2 separate regions of the Homo sapiens genome follow, and region 2 is linked to region 1. The links come from fine-mapping of genetic effects on gene expression. A gene starts in region 1. The other region holds a variant in brackets. All regions are shown on one strand. Distances are between the middles of the regions. Region 1 holds the start of ZNF584 (zinc finger protein 584). Region 2 overlaps SLC27A5 (solute carrier family 27 member 5).

What was found. PIP is the estimated chance that this variant, and not a neighbour inherited with it, causes the effect.
Region 2: its variant is the best candidate, but not a certain one, in a credible set for the expression of ZNF584 in fibroblasts (GTEx, PIP 0.56).

What each region holds. Positions count from the first base shown.
Region 1 is chr19:58,403,614-58,411,941 of GRCh38, reverse strand. ZNF584 (zinc finger protein 584) reads right to left here and starts at 3,293. Exons shown (of 4, transcript NM_173548.3): 1 at 2,777-3,293; 2 at 1,851-2,001. The coding sequence starts at 2,794. ZNF584-DT (ZNF584 divergent transcript) reads left to right here and starts at 3,479. Exons shown (of 1, transcript NR_186337.1): 1 at 3,479-8,328. RefSeq lists a silencer at 3,165-3,224 and enhancers at 3,485-3,534, 3,461-4,106, 4,085-4,134.
Region 2 is chr19:58,501,721-58,510,048 of GRCh38, reverse strand. SLC27A5 (solute carrier family 27 member 5) reads left to right here. Exons shown (of 10, transcript NM_012254.3): 3 at 44-202. It overlaps LOC105372485 (a long non-coding RNA gene), which reads right to left. Exons shown (of 2, transcript XR_001754024.2): 2 at 1-265. Among named protein-coding and RNA genes, the nearest start is that of SLC27A5, 6.1 kb to the left of the region's middle. RefSeq lists a silencer at 3,236-3,449. The variant G/C (reference allele first, on the strand shown) is at 3,999.

The sequences.
Region 1 (8,328 bases):
TAATGCAAGGTTGAACATATGAAAATCAACAATTAGTGTTGGGAGGCCGACGGGGGCAGATCACGAGGTCAAGAGATCAAGACCATCCTTGCAAACATGGTGAAACCCCATCTCTACGAAAAATACAAAAATTAGCTGGGCGTGGTGGTGCACGCCTATAGTCCCAGCTACTTGGGAGGCTGAGGCAGGAAAATCACTTGAACCCGGGAGGTGGAGGTTGCAGTGAGCCGAGATCGCGCCACTGCACTCCAGCCTGGCGACAGAACAAGACTCCGTCTCAAAAAAAGAAAAGGCAATCAATTATTCTAATATACTACATTAACAGAAGAGAGGACAAAAATCACATGATCATTTCATTAGACATTGGAAAAGCATTTGACAAAATCTAGTGACCTTTCTTTTCTTTTTTTTTTTTGAGACGTAGTTTCACTCTTGTTGCCCAGGCTGGAGTGCAATGGTGCGATCTCAGCTCACTGCAACCTCCACCTCCCAGGTTCAAGCGATTCTCCTGCCTCAGCTTCCCTAGTAGCTGGGATTACAGGCATGTGCCACCACACCTGGCTAGTTTTCTATTTTTAGTAGAGATGGGGTTTCACCATGTTGACCACGCTGGTCTTGAACTCCTGACCTCAGGTAATCCACCTGCCTCGCCCTCCCAAAATGCTGAAATTACAGGCATGAGCCACTGCACCTGGCCATGACTTTTCTTAATAAACACATTAAATGAACTAGAAAGAGAAGGGAACTTCCTCACCTGAAATGGGCATCTGCAAAAAACCAACAGCTAACACCATACTTAACAGTGAAGAATAAAGTACTTAGGAATAAATTTAACGAAAGAAGTACCTTTGTGGCCAGGCGCAGTGGCTCACGCCTGTAATCCCAGCACTTTGAGAGGCCAAGGCAGGCAGATCATGAGGTCCGGAGTTCAAGACCAGCCTGGCCAACAAAGTGAAACCCTGTCTCTACTAAAAATACAAAAATTAGCCAGGCATGGTGGCGCGAGCCTGTAGTCCCAGCTACTCGGGAGACTGAGGCAGGAGAATCGCTTGAACCCTGGAGGCAGAGGTTGTGGTGAGCCGAGATTGCGCCACTGCACTCCAGCCTGGGCAACAGAGTGAGGCTCTGTCTCAAAAAAAAAAAAAAAAAAAAAAAAAAAAAAATTATATATATATATACATATATATATATATATACACACATATATATATATACATATATATATACACATATATACATATATATATACATATATACATATATATACACATATATACATATATACACATATATACACATATATATACACATATATACACATATATACACATATATATACATATATATACATATATATACATATATATACATATATATATACACATATATATATATATATATATATATATATATATATATATATTTCCCAAACCGTTCTGATTAAAATTCATGGCTCAAGCCTGGCCCAGGGAGGTCCCTGTAAAATTTCTTTTGTAGGGAGGCAAAACCCAGAGCACAGAGAAGCCATGTCTTCAAGAGAGTCACATGGCCAGGAAAAGGCAGAGCTTGGTGGGATTTGGTGGGCAAACTATGAAACATCTGACCCCCAAAACCTGCTCCACTAGCTCCTGGGGCAAGAGGTGTTGAGGCTGCCAACAGCATTGCTCAGAGAAAGGCAGGGAAAGAGCACACCGCCGAGTCCCACCACCGAGTCCCACCACCCACAATACCTACAACAGGGAATCTGGGAAGGAAAGAGCCCCCATGGTCTGGCTTCGTTATGGACAGAACTTCGCATGGGGAAAATGAGGGGGTAGTCAGTGTGCTGGGGGACAGTGTAAGAGACTTACCCAGTGAGCTAACGAGTGCAAAGTTCTCCAGCATCACATCCCGGTATAGGCCCTTCTGGGTCACATTAAGGAGCCCCCACTCCTCCCTGGAGAAATATACCGTCACATCCTCAAACATCACCAAGCCCTGCAATGATGGGTCCAACTGAGCCTTGGGGTCAATGATGGGCAGAAAAAAACAACCAAAATATGGACAGATGGACACATTCAGGCCCTTGACCTGTATCTCAGGGTCCTATCACATCTCCCCCTGACATTATCTTTCCCTATGAGCTCTAAACTCTTCCCCACCTTACTCCCTACACATACCCTTATACCTTCCTTCTCCTATCCCAGAGGAATATCAGAGCTGCTGGTGTTATTGATGCTTCTGGTGTTACTACTGGAAACTGTGTCCAGCCCAAAGCGACATCAGGTTGGTGACCAGACTGATGCCATCTATGTGCAGGGCCAAGGGCACAGGCTCCACTCTATCTCCTGCCTGCCAATTCCAGTCCCAGAGATCATACCTCTCAGACGCAACCAAACCTATGCTCATCCTTCTCCCTTAGGTCTCAAGTACCTGGTCCCAGGGTCCAGTTTGCCTCCTGCTCAACAGGCACAAAACTGGACAACAGAATGCCTAAAACTGTACACCCCCAGCACAACGTCCCCAGTTTACCCTATAGGCAATTGCCTGGCCTTCCACACGCCGTTCTGCACATGCGTCTCCAGAGGGCCTGGCACAGCAACTACGACCCCATCCTGTCCCAGTCCTGCGGCACATCTCCAATGGCTCCCACTGCCAAGGGCATGCCCCAGCCGTGCATCAAAGACCTCCCCCTGGAATCATACGCAGATCTCCTGCCCTCCTCCAACTCTGCCCTGGCACACGCCGCCCCCCACCTGGTGGGCCCCCTCATTCCTCGGAGGCATCCTCTGCTCACCTCCGCCTCCCCGGCCATTGGACCGTGCGGGCAGAACCCGTGGACTGGACCCACGGCCTCAGCCGAAACGCGTCCCGGGCGCGGAAACCCTCGGCCGCCGTGGAACCTTCCCGGGAAGCTCTCCCCGCGCGGGTGAAATGCGTCCGAAGACAGGGAACCGCTTCCCGGAGCCGCTGGGAAGGAGGACGGTACGGAGGCCCGGGAGACCCACGGCGCCTGTCCGCGAGCGATAAGTCTGAGGAAGATGGAGCCACTCGCCGGTGGGGCACGGCGCGTGGAAGGCGCGGCAAAGGTCCCTGCCCTTCACCTCGCGCAGGGGATCGCGAGGAAGTCACCCCGGCCCACGCAGAGCTGCCTGAGGCGCCGGGACAGCCTTCCCGCCGAGGACTGCGGACTGCCGGGCAACGCCGGAACTCCCGGAACTCCCGTGGCCCGCGCCTCCCCTCGCTCGGCGCCCCTCACGCCACGACCTCCATTCCCGGCTCTCCTCGCGGCGCGGCTGGGTCGTTGCCAAGGCGATAAGGGAGGGCGCCGCTAGCTCCTGAAGCGGGACGTGAACTACATTTCCCATAAGGAGCCTCGACGTGGGGCCGTTCAGACTTGGCCAATGGCGGCCCAGGAACGGGAACGTTCGGGCGGGCCCTGCGTGGGGCGGGGCTTCCGGCGTCGGCTTTCGGCGCTGGCTTTGGGGCGGTTTGCGGCAGTGGGATCATTGGGCGGTGGGCGGTGTGGAGGAGTCTCCGCTGGTCCGCAGAAACGAACGAAGGCGCGAGAATCGGGAAGTTCTGCCTCAGTGACCTGTACGCGTCCTAGCCGCAGTGAATGTTGCTGAACCCCGGTGACCTCACAGTGGAGGGGCGGCCCCATGGGGCCATCGGACCGCGCCGCGCGGGGGCGTTCGCCAGGGCCTCCGCAGAAGCCCGCCTGTGCCCGCAACCGCCCCGAAATTCTCTCCCTGGCACCGTGTCCGCTTTACGGAGCCCGGAGCAAGGCTCAGAAAAATGTCCCAGCCAAAAACATGGTACATGCCTGTCATCAGGCAAGTCTTCAAAGAGCGGCTGGGACCAGGGGCCGAGGGACCTCGTTTAGAGGCGGCTTAGGGGGAAGGTCAGCAGTTGTGTTTCAGTTGTGTTGGGTTTTCGGCGCCCCACAATGCGGGCGACGTATGGGCCACAGGTGTGGATGCCAGGGACAGGTCGCCCTGCACATGGCTGAGGCACGGTAGGCTTGTAGTCTACCCCATATCAGGCCATGGTGATCTCAGGTATGGGGGCCTGGGAGAGGAGAGTGAGTACATGGCTGAGTACGTCAGAGCACGGGGTCAGGGACACATCAGGGGAGGACGCTGGCAGGAGAATAACCGGGCTCCTGGGTGTCCTCCGCTGAATTCAGACGCGTTCATGTTAGAGCAGGTGGGCCTGCGTCCTCCCGGACGAACGGAGTTCTTAGGCAAGGTCCAGAGGAGCTTCTACCTGAAGTGGTGCTGGAGAACTTTGCACTCAGTGCTGGGTGAGACCACTGGCACCATAACTCTCCCCAGCCTCAACTCTGGTTTTTTTCCTCTGTTCTTTCCATGTTCCCCTTGGAAGTCGCTGTTGGTCGTGGCACTGAGGCCCAGATCATGCCACCTCCTCTAACAAGTGGCTGAGTGGACACCCCACACATTCTACCCAAGGGCCGTGAGTGGCCAAGATCGGGGCTCAGAAGTCTCTGAATCTTCACAGCTGGTCACGTTCAGCTCGGTCACTTCCTGTAAGATTCCAGGCACTGCATGCACTGACATGGGTGCGTGTGGGCCCACTGGGTCCTGCCTGGGAGCCTTCCCTGAATGTTCATTTTTTGCAGGTCTGTGTTTGTCTTGGAGTAAGGATTATTCTCGCTTGCTGGGGTCATGGTGTTTTGGCCTCTCCTGGCCTGGACTCTCAAAAACTCATCATCCTTCATAGGTCTGAAGGCTTCTACATTCCCACCAGCAGGTGGACCATATGAACTCAAAACTAGTTGTGGCAGAGGGACCCTGAAGAGATCTACCCCTGGTGAATGCCCCCAGGAGTGGGCTGTTCTCACACCTGGTGCCCAGCCTGTGCCCTCGCAGGTCTTGGTGCCTCCACTCAGCTCAATTCCAGTTTTCTGGCCATGCCCCGCTGTGTCCCTTTCTCTCTCCTTAGTGCCTAGCTGTGCAATGTTTGCCTCTCCTTAACATGTCCTCAGCTGACCCCATATCCTCAGTCCTTGCAACCCTGTTCCTCAGTGACACCTGTGTATTCTCTCCAGTGGAGACACAGGTGGGACACCCCCAAGCTCATGGTACATGCCTGTCATCAGTACCCCTGGACTGTCATGGTGGGTCAGTCTGCCCTAGGCTGGACTGACCAACCTGTTCATTCCCCCACAGGATTGCCCTTTACAGTTCATGAGTTCCCCCAACTGGAGTGCAGACAAGAGCACTGATTGATGGACCAGGTAGACTTGAAACCAGGAATAGCACAAAAGTTATCAAAGAGGCTCAGCCATGGAGATTGCAAGCTGGGGATGGAAGTATCCCTGGAATTGAGCTGTTCTCACACCTGGTACCTGAGTTATACCCCTGGTGTCTGGGTACCAAGGTCACTAGCCTTGCCACTTTTCTATGTTCCTGATCCCCTACTAAACAGTCCACCTTTTCGCCTACTTCCCCTGACTCCTGTACCCTGTCCCCTCTTTCTGCCTAGTTTGAAGACACTGGTCATCCCATAACATGTCCTGGGCTAATACATATCCTCAAATCGTTCTTGAAAATCTGTTCCTCTTCCCTCCTCCCCCTCCCCCTCCCCCCCCCCCCGCTCTTTCCACGGTCTCCCTCTGATGCCGAGCCGAAGCTGGACGGTACTGCTGCCATCTCGGCTCACTGCAACCTCCCTGCCTGATTCTCTTGCCTCAGCCTGCCGAGTGCCTGCGATTGCAGGCGCGTGCCGCCACGCCTGACTGGTTTTCGTATTTTTTTTGGTGGAGACGGGGTTTCGCTGTGTTGGCCGGGCTGGTCTCCAGCTCCTAACCACGAGTGATCCGCCAGCCTCGGCCTCCCGAGGTGCCGGGATTGCAGACGGAGTCTCGTTCATTCAGTGCTCAATGGTGTCCAGGCTGGAGTGCAGTGGCGTGATCTCGGCTCGCTACAACCTCCACCTCCCAGCAACCCGCCTTGGCCTCCCAAAGTGCCGAGATTGCAGCCTCTGCCCGGCGGCCACCCCGTCTGGGAAGTGAGGAGCGTCTCCGCCTGGCCGCCCATCATCTGGGATGTGAGGAGCCCCTCTGCCTGGCTGCCCAGTCTGGAAAGTGAGGAGCGTCTCTGCCCGGCCGCCATCCCATCTAGGAAGTGAGGAGCGCCTCTTCCCGGCCGCCATCACATCTGGGAAGTGAGGAGCGTCTCTGCCCGGCCGCCCATCGTCTGAGATGTGGGGAGCATCTCTGCCCTGCCGCCCCGTCCGGGATGTGAGGAGCGTCTCTGCCCGGCCGCCCCGTCTGAGAAGTGAGGAGACCCTCTGCCTGGCAACTGCCCCGTCTGAGAAGTGAGGAGCCCCTCCGCCCGGCAGCCGCCCCGTCTGAGAAGTGAGGAGCCCCTCCGCCCAGCAGCCACCCCGTCTGGGAAGTGAGGAGCATCTCCGCCCGGCAGCCGCCCCGTCTGAGAAGTGAGGAGCCTCTCCGCCCAGCAGCCACCTCGTCCGGGAGGGAGGTGGGGGGGTCAGCCCCCCGCCCGGCCAGCCGCCCCGTCCGGGAGGGAGGTGGGGGGATCAGTCCCCCACCCGGCCAGCCGCCCTGTCCGGGAGATGAGGGGCGCCTCTGCCCGGCCGCCCCTACTGGGAAGTGAGGAGCCCTTCTGCCCGGCCAGCCGCTCCGTCCGGGAGGGAGGTGGGGGGGTCAGCCCCCCGCCCGGCCAGCCGCCCTGTCCGGAAGGGAGGTGGGGGGGTCAGCCCCCCGCGCGGCCAGCCGACCCGTCCGGGAGGGAGGTGGGGGGGTCAGCCCCCTGCCCGGCCAGCCGCCCCGTCCGGGAGGTGCGGGGCGCCTCTGCCCGGCCGCCCCTACTGGGAAGTGAGGAGCCCCTCTGCCCGGCCAGCCGCCCCATCTGGGAGGGAGGTGGGGGGGTCAGCCCCCCGCCCTGCCAGCCGCCCTGTCCGGGAGGGAGGTGGGGGGGTCAGCCCCCCGCCTGGCCAGCCACCCCGTCCGGGAGGTGAGGGGCGCCTCTGCCCGGCCGCCCCTACTGGGAAGTGAGGAGCCCCTCTGCCTGGCCAGCCGCCCCGTCCAGGAGGGAGGTGGGGGGGGGGGTCAGCCCCCCGCCTGGCGAGCCGCCCTGTCCGGGAGGTGAGGGGCGCCTCTGCCCGGCCGCCCCTACTGGGAAATGAGGAGCCCCTCTGCCCGGCCACCACCCCATCTGGGAGGTGTACCCAACAGCTCGTTGAGAACGGGCCATGATGACAATGGCGGTTTTGTGGAATAGAAAGGGGGGAAAGATGGGGAAAAGATTGAGAAATCGGATGGTTGCCGTGTCTGTGTAGAAAGAGGTAGACGTGGGAGACTTTTCATTTTGTTCTGTACTAAGAAAAATTCTTCTGCCTTGGGATCCTGTTGATCTGTGACCTTACCCCCAACCCTGTGCTCTCTGAAACATGTGCTGTATCCACTCAGGGTTGAATGGATTAAGGGCGGTGCAAGATGTGCTTTGTTAAACAGATGCTTGAAGGCAGCATGCTCCTTAAGAGTCATCACCACTCCCTAATCTCAAGTACCCAGGGACACAAACACTGCGGAAGGCCGCAGGGTCCTCTGCCTAGGAAAACCAGAGACCTTTGTTCACTTGTTTATCTGCTGACCTTCCCTCCCCTATTGTCCTGTGACCCTGCCAAATCCCCCTCTACGAGAAACACCCAAGAATGATCAATAAAAAAAAAAGAAAAAAAAAAAATCTGTTCCTCTGTGAGATGGGCCTGATCTCTCCCACGGGTGGAGCAGAGGAGTAGAGGGTCCAGGGCCTGAGTCTCCCATAGGCTAAGTATTTGCCCTGAGTCATAAAGCCAGTGGGAGGCAGTGCTACAGTTTGATTCCAGGAAGTCTCAGACCAAAGTTCTCTCTTAACCACTTACCTTTCCTGGGCTTAATAGTTAGTTCATTTATGTTTTTCCTGGCACTACTTCATTGGACCTCATTTTAGTTTCTTCTTTTTTTTTTTTTTTTTTGAGACGGAGTTGCTCTGACACCCAGGCTGGAGTGCAGTGCCACGATCTCACAGTAACCTCCGCCTCCCGGGTTCAAGCAATTCTGTCTCAGCCTCACGAATAGCTGGGACGACAAGCGCGTGCCACCACACCCGGCTAATTTTTGTATTTTTAGTAGAGTTGGGGTTTCACCATTTTGGCCAGGATGGTCTCCATCTCCTGACCTCGTGATCCGCCCCGCTCAGCCTCCCAAAATGCTGGGATTACAGGCATGAGCTACCGCACCCGGCCCATTTGTTAACATTGTAAAATGAATATTAGTACATTATTATTAATGTACATTATATGGGTTTTCACAAATGCATA
Region 2 (8,328 bases), 98 kb before region 1:
CTGTCATGTCACCACCCTGCCCTTGCCATGCCTTCATCCCAAGGCCTCCCGAAGCCAGCCATCCTCACGCATGAGCGGGTACTGCAGATGAGCAAGATGCTGTCCTTATCTGGGGCCACAGCTGATGATGTGGTTTACACGGTCCTGCCTCTGTACCACGTGATGGGACTTGTCGTTGGGATCCTCGGCTGCTTAGATCTCGGTAAGCCCACTTCTGAGGATCCCTCCAGTCTACAGGACCACGGGAGTAAGTGTCGGCGTGGGGCTGTCAAGGCAAAAAGACACCATAGGTTACCCAGCACCCTGTGTTCTCACTTTTGAGAAGGGACACCCACCAATGACTACCAGGGCCGCATGGACAGAAGCTTGGACACCCACACAGTCCCTGATGGCCATGCTTTGGTCAGGAGGTGACAAGACCTGATACGAGTGATGGTCACAGGCATCCAAGGAAGGTGTGGTGCTCAGGAGATGATGGGGATGCTGGCCCAGATTTGTGACATGGCCCCAAGGGCAGCTGGAGTAGGAGTGCTCTCAAGCACTCCACAGGGCTGTCTCTCTGGACTCTTGATTCAGAGTCTAGATGGGGACCTCTCCATAGCTTGTTCTTTTTGTTTTCTCTCTTTTTTTTTTATTTTAATTTTTATTTATTTATTTTTTTTCGAGACAGAGTCTTGCTTTGTCACCCAGGCTGGAGTGCAGAGGCATGATCTTGGCTCACTGCAACCTCTGCCTCCTGGGTTCAAGCAATTCTCCTGCCTCATCCTCCTGAGTAACTGGGATTACAGGCGCCCACCACCACGCCCGGCTAATTTTTGTAGTTTTAGTAGAGACGGGATTTCACCATCTTGGCCAGGCTGGTCTTGAACTCCTGACCTCGTGATCCACCTGCCTTGGCCTCCCAAAGTGCTGAGATTACAGGTGTGAGCCACCGCACCTGGCTATTTTCTCTCTCTCTCTCTTTTTTTTTTTGAGACAGAGTCTCGCTCTGTCGCCCAGGCTGGAGTGCGGTGGCATGATCTCGGCTCACTGCAAGCTCCGCCTTCCAGGTTCAAGCGATTTTCCTGCCTCAGCCTCCTGAGTAGCTGGGATTACAGGCACGCACCACCACGCCCAGCTAATTTTTGTATTTTTACTAGAGACTAGGTTTCACCATGTTGGTCAGGCTGGTCTCAAACTCCTGACCTTGTGATCTGCCCACATTTGCGGGCATTTGCCTCCCAAAGCGCTGGGATTACAGGTGTGACCCACCACGCCCGGCCTTTTTGTGTTTTCCAGCTATTATCATGGCCATGTGTGGTTGCTCATGCCTATAATCCCTGCACTTTGGGTGCCAAGGCAGGAGGATCACTTGAGTCCAGGAGTTCAACACCAGCGTGGGCAACATAGTAAGAGGCCATCTGTTAAAAAAAAATTTTAAAAAGCCACGCATGGTGGTATCGGGGGAACCTGCCCCTAATATTTCAATGTAGGTTCTTTTTTTTTTTTTTTTTGAGATGGAGTCTCGCTCTGTCGCCCAGGCTGGAGTGCAGTGGTGCGATCTCAGCTCACTGCAAGCTCTGCCTCCTGGGTTCATGCCATTCTCCTGCCTCAGCCTCCCCAGTAGCTGGGACTACAGGCGCCTGCCACCGCGCCCGGCTAATTTTTTGTATTTTTAGTAGAGATGGGGTTTCACATTTAGCCAGGATGGTCTCAATCTCCTGACCTCATGATCCTCCCACCTCGGCCTCCCAAAGTGCTGGGATTACAGGTGTGAGCCACTGTGCCCGGCCTCGATGTAGGTTCTTTCTATTTTCCGTAAGTGCTGGCCAGCTGAGAAATAAAGAGAAAGAGTACAAAGAGAGGAATTTGACAGCTGGGCCTCCGGGGGTGACATCACATATCGGTAGGACCATGATGCCCACCTGAGCTCAAAGCCAGCAAGTTTTATTAAGGATTTCAGAAGGGAAGGGGGTGTAAGAACCGAGAATAGGTACAAAGATCACATGCTTCAAAGGGCAAAAAACGGAACTACTGATCAGGGTCCAACAAAGATCACAAGGCAAAGGGCAAAAGCAGAACTGATAAGGGTCTATGTTCAGTGGTGCACATATTGTCTTGATAAACATCTTAAACAACAGAAAACAGGGTTCAAGAGCAGAGAACTGGTCTGACCTCAAATTTACCAGGGCGGGGTTTTTCCCCACCCTAGTAAGCCTGAGGGTACTGCAGGAGACCAGGGTGCATCTCAGTCCTTATCTCAACTGCATAGGACAGACATTCCCAGAGCGGCCATTTATAGACCTCCCCCCAGGAATGAATTCCTTTCCCAGGGTCTTAATGTTAATATTCCTTGCTAGGAAAATAATTTAGCAATATCTCTCCTACTTGCACGTCCACTTATAGGCTCTCTGCAAGAAGAAAAATATGGCTCTTTTTGCCCAGCCCCGCAGGCAGTCAGACCTTAGGGTTGTCTTCCCTTGTTCCCTAAAATCACTCTCATTCTGTTCTTTTTCAATGTGCGCTGATTTCACATTGTTCAAACACACATTTTACAATCAATTTGTACAGTTAACACAATTATCACAGGGTCCTGAGGTGACGTACATCCTCAGCTTATGAAGATAACAGGATTAAGAGATGAAAGTAAGACAGGCGTAAGAAATTATAAGAGTATTATTTGGGAAGTGATAAATGTCCATGTTATCTTCACAATTTATGTTCCTCTGCCGTGGCTCCAGCCGGTCCGTCTGTTAGGGGTCCCTGACTTCCCGCAACAGTGGTGAGCACTTGTGAGCGATTCTTCTGCCTCAGCATCCCGAGTAGCTGTTATTACAGGTGCCCACCACTATGCCCGGCTAATTTTTGAATTTTTAGTATAGGTGGGGTCTCACCATGTTGGCCAGGCTGGTCTCCAACACCTGACCTCATGATCCACCCACCTCAGCCTCCCAAAGTGCTGGGATTACAGGCATGAGCCACCGCGCCCGGCCAAATTTTTCTTTTTTTTTTAATTATGAAAAGTTTAGCTGTGCCCGGTGGTTCACGCCTGTAATCCCAGCACTTTGGGAGGCTGAGGCGGGTGGATCACCTGAGGTCAGGAGTTCAAGACAAGCCTGGTCAACATAGTGAAATCTGTCTCTACTTAAAATACAAAAATTAGCCAGTCATGGTGGCTCACGCCTGTAATCCCAGCACTTTGGGAAGCTGAGGCCACTGGATCACCTGAAATCAGGAGTTTGAGACCAGCCTGGCCAACATGGTAAAACCCTGTCTGTACTGAAAATACAAAATTAGCTGGGCGTGGTGATGCGAGCCTGTGTTTCCAGCTACTCGGGAGGCTGAGGCAGGAAAATCGCTTCAACCTGGGAGGCGGGGGTTGCAAAAAGAGTGAAACTCCCTTGCAAAAAAAAAAAAAAAGTGAAAATAGTTTGATGACATCTCATGTATCTTCGCCCAGCATCAATAATTGTTAACATGTTGCCAGTTTAATTTCGCATATACTTCTCTGTTTCTTTTTTGTTTGTTTTTGAGACACAGTCTCGCTCTGTCACCCAGGCTGGAGTGCAGTGGCACCATCTCAGATCACCACAACCTCTGCCTCCCGGGTTCAAGCAATTCTCTGCTGAGGCTGAGCCTCCTGAGTAGCTGGGATTACAGGCATGCGCCTCCACACCTGGCTAATGTTTGTATTCTTAGTAGAGACGGGGTTTTGCCATGTTGGCCAGGCTGGTCTCGAACTCCTGACCTCAGGTGATCCACCTACCTCGGCCTCCCAAAGTGCTGGGATTACAGGCGTGAACCACCGCGCCTGGCGTCTGTTTGTTTTCAAACTTTTATCATGGCCAGGTGTGGTTCCTCATGCCTATAATCCCTGCACTTTGGGGTACCAAGGCAGGAGGATCACTTGAGCCCAGGAGTTCAACACCAGCCTGGGCAACATAGTGAGAGTCCATCTGTTAAAAAAAAAAAAAAGCCAGGCATGGTGGTGAGCACTTGTGAGCGATTCTCCTGCCTCA[G/C]CCTCCCTAGTAGCTGTTATTACAGGCTCCCACCACCGTGCCTGGCTAACTTTTGTATTTTTAGTAGAGACAGGGTTTAACCATGTTGGCCAGGCTGGTCTCGAACTCCTGACCTCGTGATCCGCCCGCCTCGGCCTCCCAAAGTGCTGGGATTACAGGTGTGAACTACCGTGCCCGGCCAAATGTTTTTTTTTTTTTTTTTGAGTCGGGGTTTCACTATTGTTGCCCAGGATGGAATGCAATGGCGCGATGTCGGCTCACTGCAACCTCTGCCTCCTGGGTTCAAGCGATTCTCCTGCCTCAGCATCCCAAGTAGCTGGGATTACAGGCATGTGCCCTCACGACCGGCTAATTTTTTTTTATGTTTTTAGTAGAGATGGGGTTTCTCCATGTTGGTCAGGCTTGTCTCAAACTCCCGACCTCAGGTGATCCGCCCACCTCAGCCTCGCAAAGTGCTGGGATTACAGGCGTGAGCCACTGCGCCCGGCCAAATTGTTTTTTTAATTATGAAAAGTTTAGGCTGTGCCCAGTGGTTTACGCCTGTAATCCCAGCACTTTGGGAGGATGAGTCTGGTGGATCACCTGAGGTCAGGAGTTCAAGATCAGCCTGGCTAACATGGCAAAATCCGTCTCTACCTAAAATACAAAAATTACCGGGGCATGGTGGCTCACGCCTGTAATCCCAGCACTTTGGGAGGCTGAGGCCGGCGGAACACCTGAAGTCAGGAGTTTGAGACCAGCCTGGCCAACATGGTGAAACCCTGTCTCTACTGAAAATACAAAATTAGCTGGGTATGGTGGTGGGCGCCTGTATTTCCAGCTACCAGGGAGGCTGAGGCAGGAGAATCGCTTGAACCCGGGGCGCAGGGGTTGCAGTGAGCCGAGATCTAGCCATTGCATTCCAGCCTGTGCAAAAAGCGAGACTCTGTCTCAAAAAAAAAAAAAAAAAAAAGTGAAAATAGTTTGATGACATCTCAGGTATCTTCACCCAGCTTCAATAATTGTTAACATGCTGCCAGTTTAATTTCTTTTTTTTTTTTTCTTTGAGATGGAGTCTCGCTCTGTCGCCCAGGCTGGAGTGCAGTGGCGCAATCTCTGCTCACGGCAAGCTCCGCCTCCTGGGTTCATGCCATTCTCCTGCCTAAGTCTCCGGAGTAGCTGGGACTACAAGTGACCGCCACCACGCCTGGCTATTTTTTTTGTATTTTTAGTAGAGACAGGGTTTCACGGTGTTCACCAGGATGGTCTCAATCTCCTGACCTCGTGATCCGCCCGCCTCGGCCTCCCAAAGTGCTGGGATTACAGGCATGAGCCACCGCGCCCAGGGCCAGTTTAATTTCACATGTACTTCCCTGTTTCTTTTTTGTTTGTTTGTTTGTTTTTGAGACAGAGTCTCGCTCTGTCGCCCAGGCTGGAGTGCAGTGGCACCATCTTGGGTCACCGCAAGCTCCGCCCCGCCCGCCCCCCCCCCCCCCCCAGGGTTCAATCAGTTTTCTGCCTCAGCCTCCTGAATAGCTGGGATTACAGGCACGCACCGCCACAAGCGGCTAATTTTTGTATTTTTAGTAGAGACAGGGTTTCGCCATGTTGGCCAGGCTGGTCTCAAACTCCTGACCTCAGGTGATCCACCTGCCTCGGCCTCCCAAAGTGCTGGGATTACAGGCGTGAGCCACCGTGCCCAGCCACTTCCCTATTTTTTTCCAGAATATATCAGAGCAAATCCTAGACACTGCATCTTTATGCTTGTAAATATTGCAGTACATATCTCTAACATATAAGCACTGAAGAAACTGTAACCAAAGTGATTATTACACGTAACAACATTAATATCATATGATGTCCTTAATATCATATGATGTAACCCCTTAATATCATATGATGTCCAGTCTATGTTCAGATTTCTCCAATGGGCTGTTTTGGTTTGGTTTTGTTTTTAGAGACAGAGTCTTGCTTTGTCACCCAGGCTGGAGTACAGTTGTGTGATGTTGGCTCACTACAACCTCTGCCTCCTGGGTTCAAACGATTCTCATGCCTCATCCTCCTGAGCAGTTGTGATTACAGGTGTGGACCACCATGCCCAGCTAATTTTTTTGTATTTTTAGTAAAGACAGGGTTTCGCCCTGTTGGCCAGTCTGGTCTTGAACTTCTGGCCTCAAGTGATCTGAACACGTTGGCCTCCCAAAGTGCTGAGATTACAGGTGTGAGCTACTGTGCCCAGCCAATTGGCTGTTTTTTTGTTTGTTTGTTTGTTTGTTTGTTTTTAACAATTAAACAGTCTCCCCATTGTATTTGCTTGTAGGTCTCTGTTCCCCTTTCATCTGCATTTCTTGTTAAATTGGAAACTTTAACTAGAGGTGTTGTTAGATTCAGTTTTTTTCTTTTTCTTTTGAGACAGGGTCTCACTCTGTCACCCAGGCTGGAGTGCAGTGGTGTAAGCTCGGCTCACTACAGCCTCCCCCTCCTGGGTTCAAGCGATTCTTCCACCTCAGCCTCCCGAGTAGCTGGGACTACAGGTGTGCGCCACCACGCCTGGCTAATTTTTGCATTTTTTGGTAGAGATAGGGTTTCACCATGTTGGCTAGGCTGGTCTCAAACTCCTGATCTTTCAGGTGATCCACCCCCCTCAGCCTCCCAAAGTGTTGGGATAACAGGTGTGAGCCACCACGCCCAGCCCCCTATATCTTATTAATCCATGTGTCCATACGTCAATACAACCATACAAACATTCACCAACCCACCCATCTACCTACTCACCTACTTCCTCACTCATTCATTCATTCATCCACCCACCCATCTATCCATCCTTACACCTATCCATCTTTCTCTTTTTCTTTTTTTTTTTTTTTAAGACAGAGTCTCACTCTGTCGCCCAGGCTGGAGTGCAGTGGCGCTATCTCGGCTCACTGCAAGCTCCGCCTCCCAGGTTCACGCCATTCTCCTGCCTCAGCCTCCCGAGTAGCTGGGACTACAGGCGCCCGCTACCACGCCCAGCTAATTTTTTGTATTTTCAGTAGAGACGGGTTTCACCGTGTTAGCCAGGATGGTCTTGATCTCCTGACCTCGTGATCCGCCCACCTCGGCCTCCCTAAGTCCTGGGATTACAGGCGTGACGATCCTCACCCAGCCACCTATCCATCTTTCTACCCCCCTGCCTCTGCATGTCACTGTCCAGCCATCCATCTACTCACTCACTACTCTAACTGTCCACCCATCCATCTACTCACTCACTACTCTAACTGTCCAGCCATCCATCTACTCACTCACTACTCTAACTGTCCACCCATCCATCTACTCACTCACTACTCTAACTGTCCACCCATCCATCTACTCACTCACTACTCTAACTGTCCACCCATCCATCTACTCACTCACTACTCTAACTGTTCACCCATCCATCTTCTCACTCACTACTCTGTCCACACATCCATCTTCTCACTCACTACTCTGTCCACCCATCCATCTACTCACTCACTACTCTAACTGTCCACCCATCCATCCACTCACTCACTACTCTAACTGTTCACCCATCCATCTTCTCACTCACTACTGTAACTGTTCACCCATCCATCTACTCACTCACTACTCTGTTCACCCATCCATCTTCTCACTCACTACTCTAACTGTCCACACATCCATCTTCTCACTCACTACTCTGTCCACCCATCCATCTACTCACTCACTACTCTAACTGTCCACCCATCCATCCACTCACTCACTACTCTAACTGTTCACCCATCCATCTTCTCACTCACTACTCTAACTGTTCACCCATCCATCTACTCACTCACTACTCTGTCACCCATCCATCTACTCACTCACTACTCTAACTGTCCACCCATCCATCTACTCACTCACTACTCTAACTGTTCACCCATCCATCTACTCACTCACTACTCTGTCCACCCACCCATCTACTCACTCACTACTCTAACTGTCCATCCATTCATCTTTCCATCCATCCACCATATCCATCCACCTGCCCACCCATCTGCTTAGCTGGGCATTCATTTATCGTAATCAAGAGTGATTTGAGCTTCGAGTCAGTGACAAGCCAAAATAAAAATTAAAAATGTGGCTGGGCACAGAGGCTCATGCCTGTAATCACAGCACTTTGGAGGCCGAGGCGGGTGGATCACCTGAAAGGTCAGGAGTTCAAGACCAGCCTGGCCAACATGGTGAAACCCCGTCTGTACTTAAAAAAGTACAAAAATTAGCCAGCTGTGGTGGCGGGTGCTTGTAATCCCAGCAACTCAGAAAGCTGAGGCAGGAGAATCGCTTGAACCCGGGAGGGAGAGGTTGCAGTGAGCGGAGATTGCACCACTGCACTCCA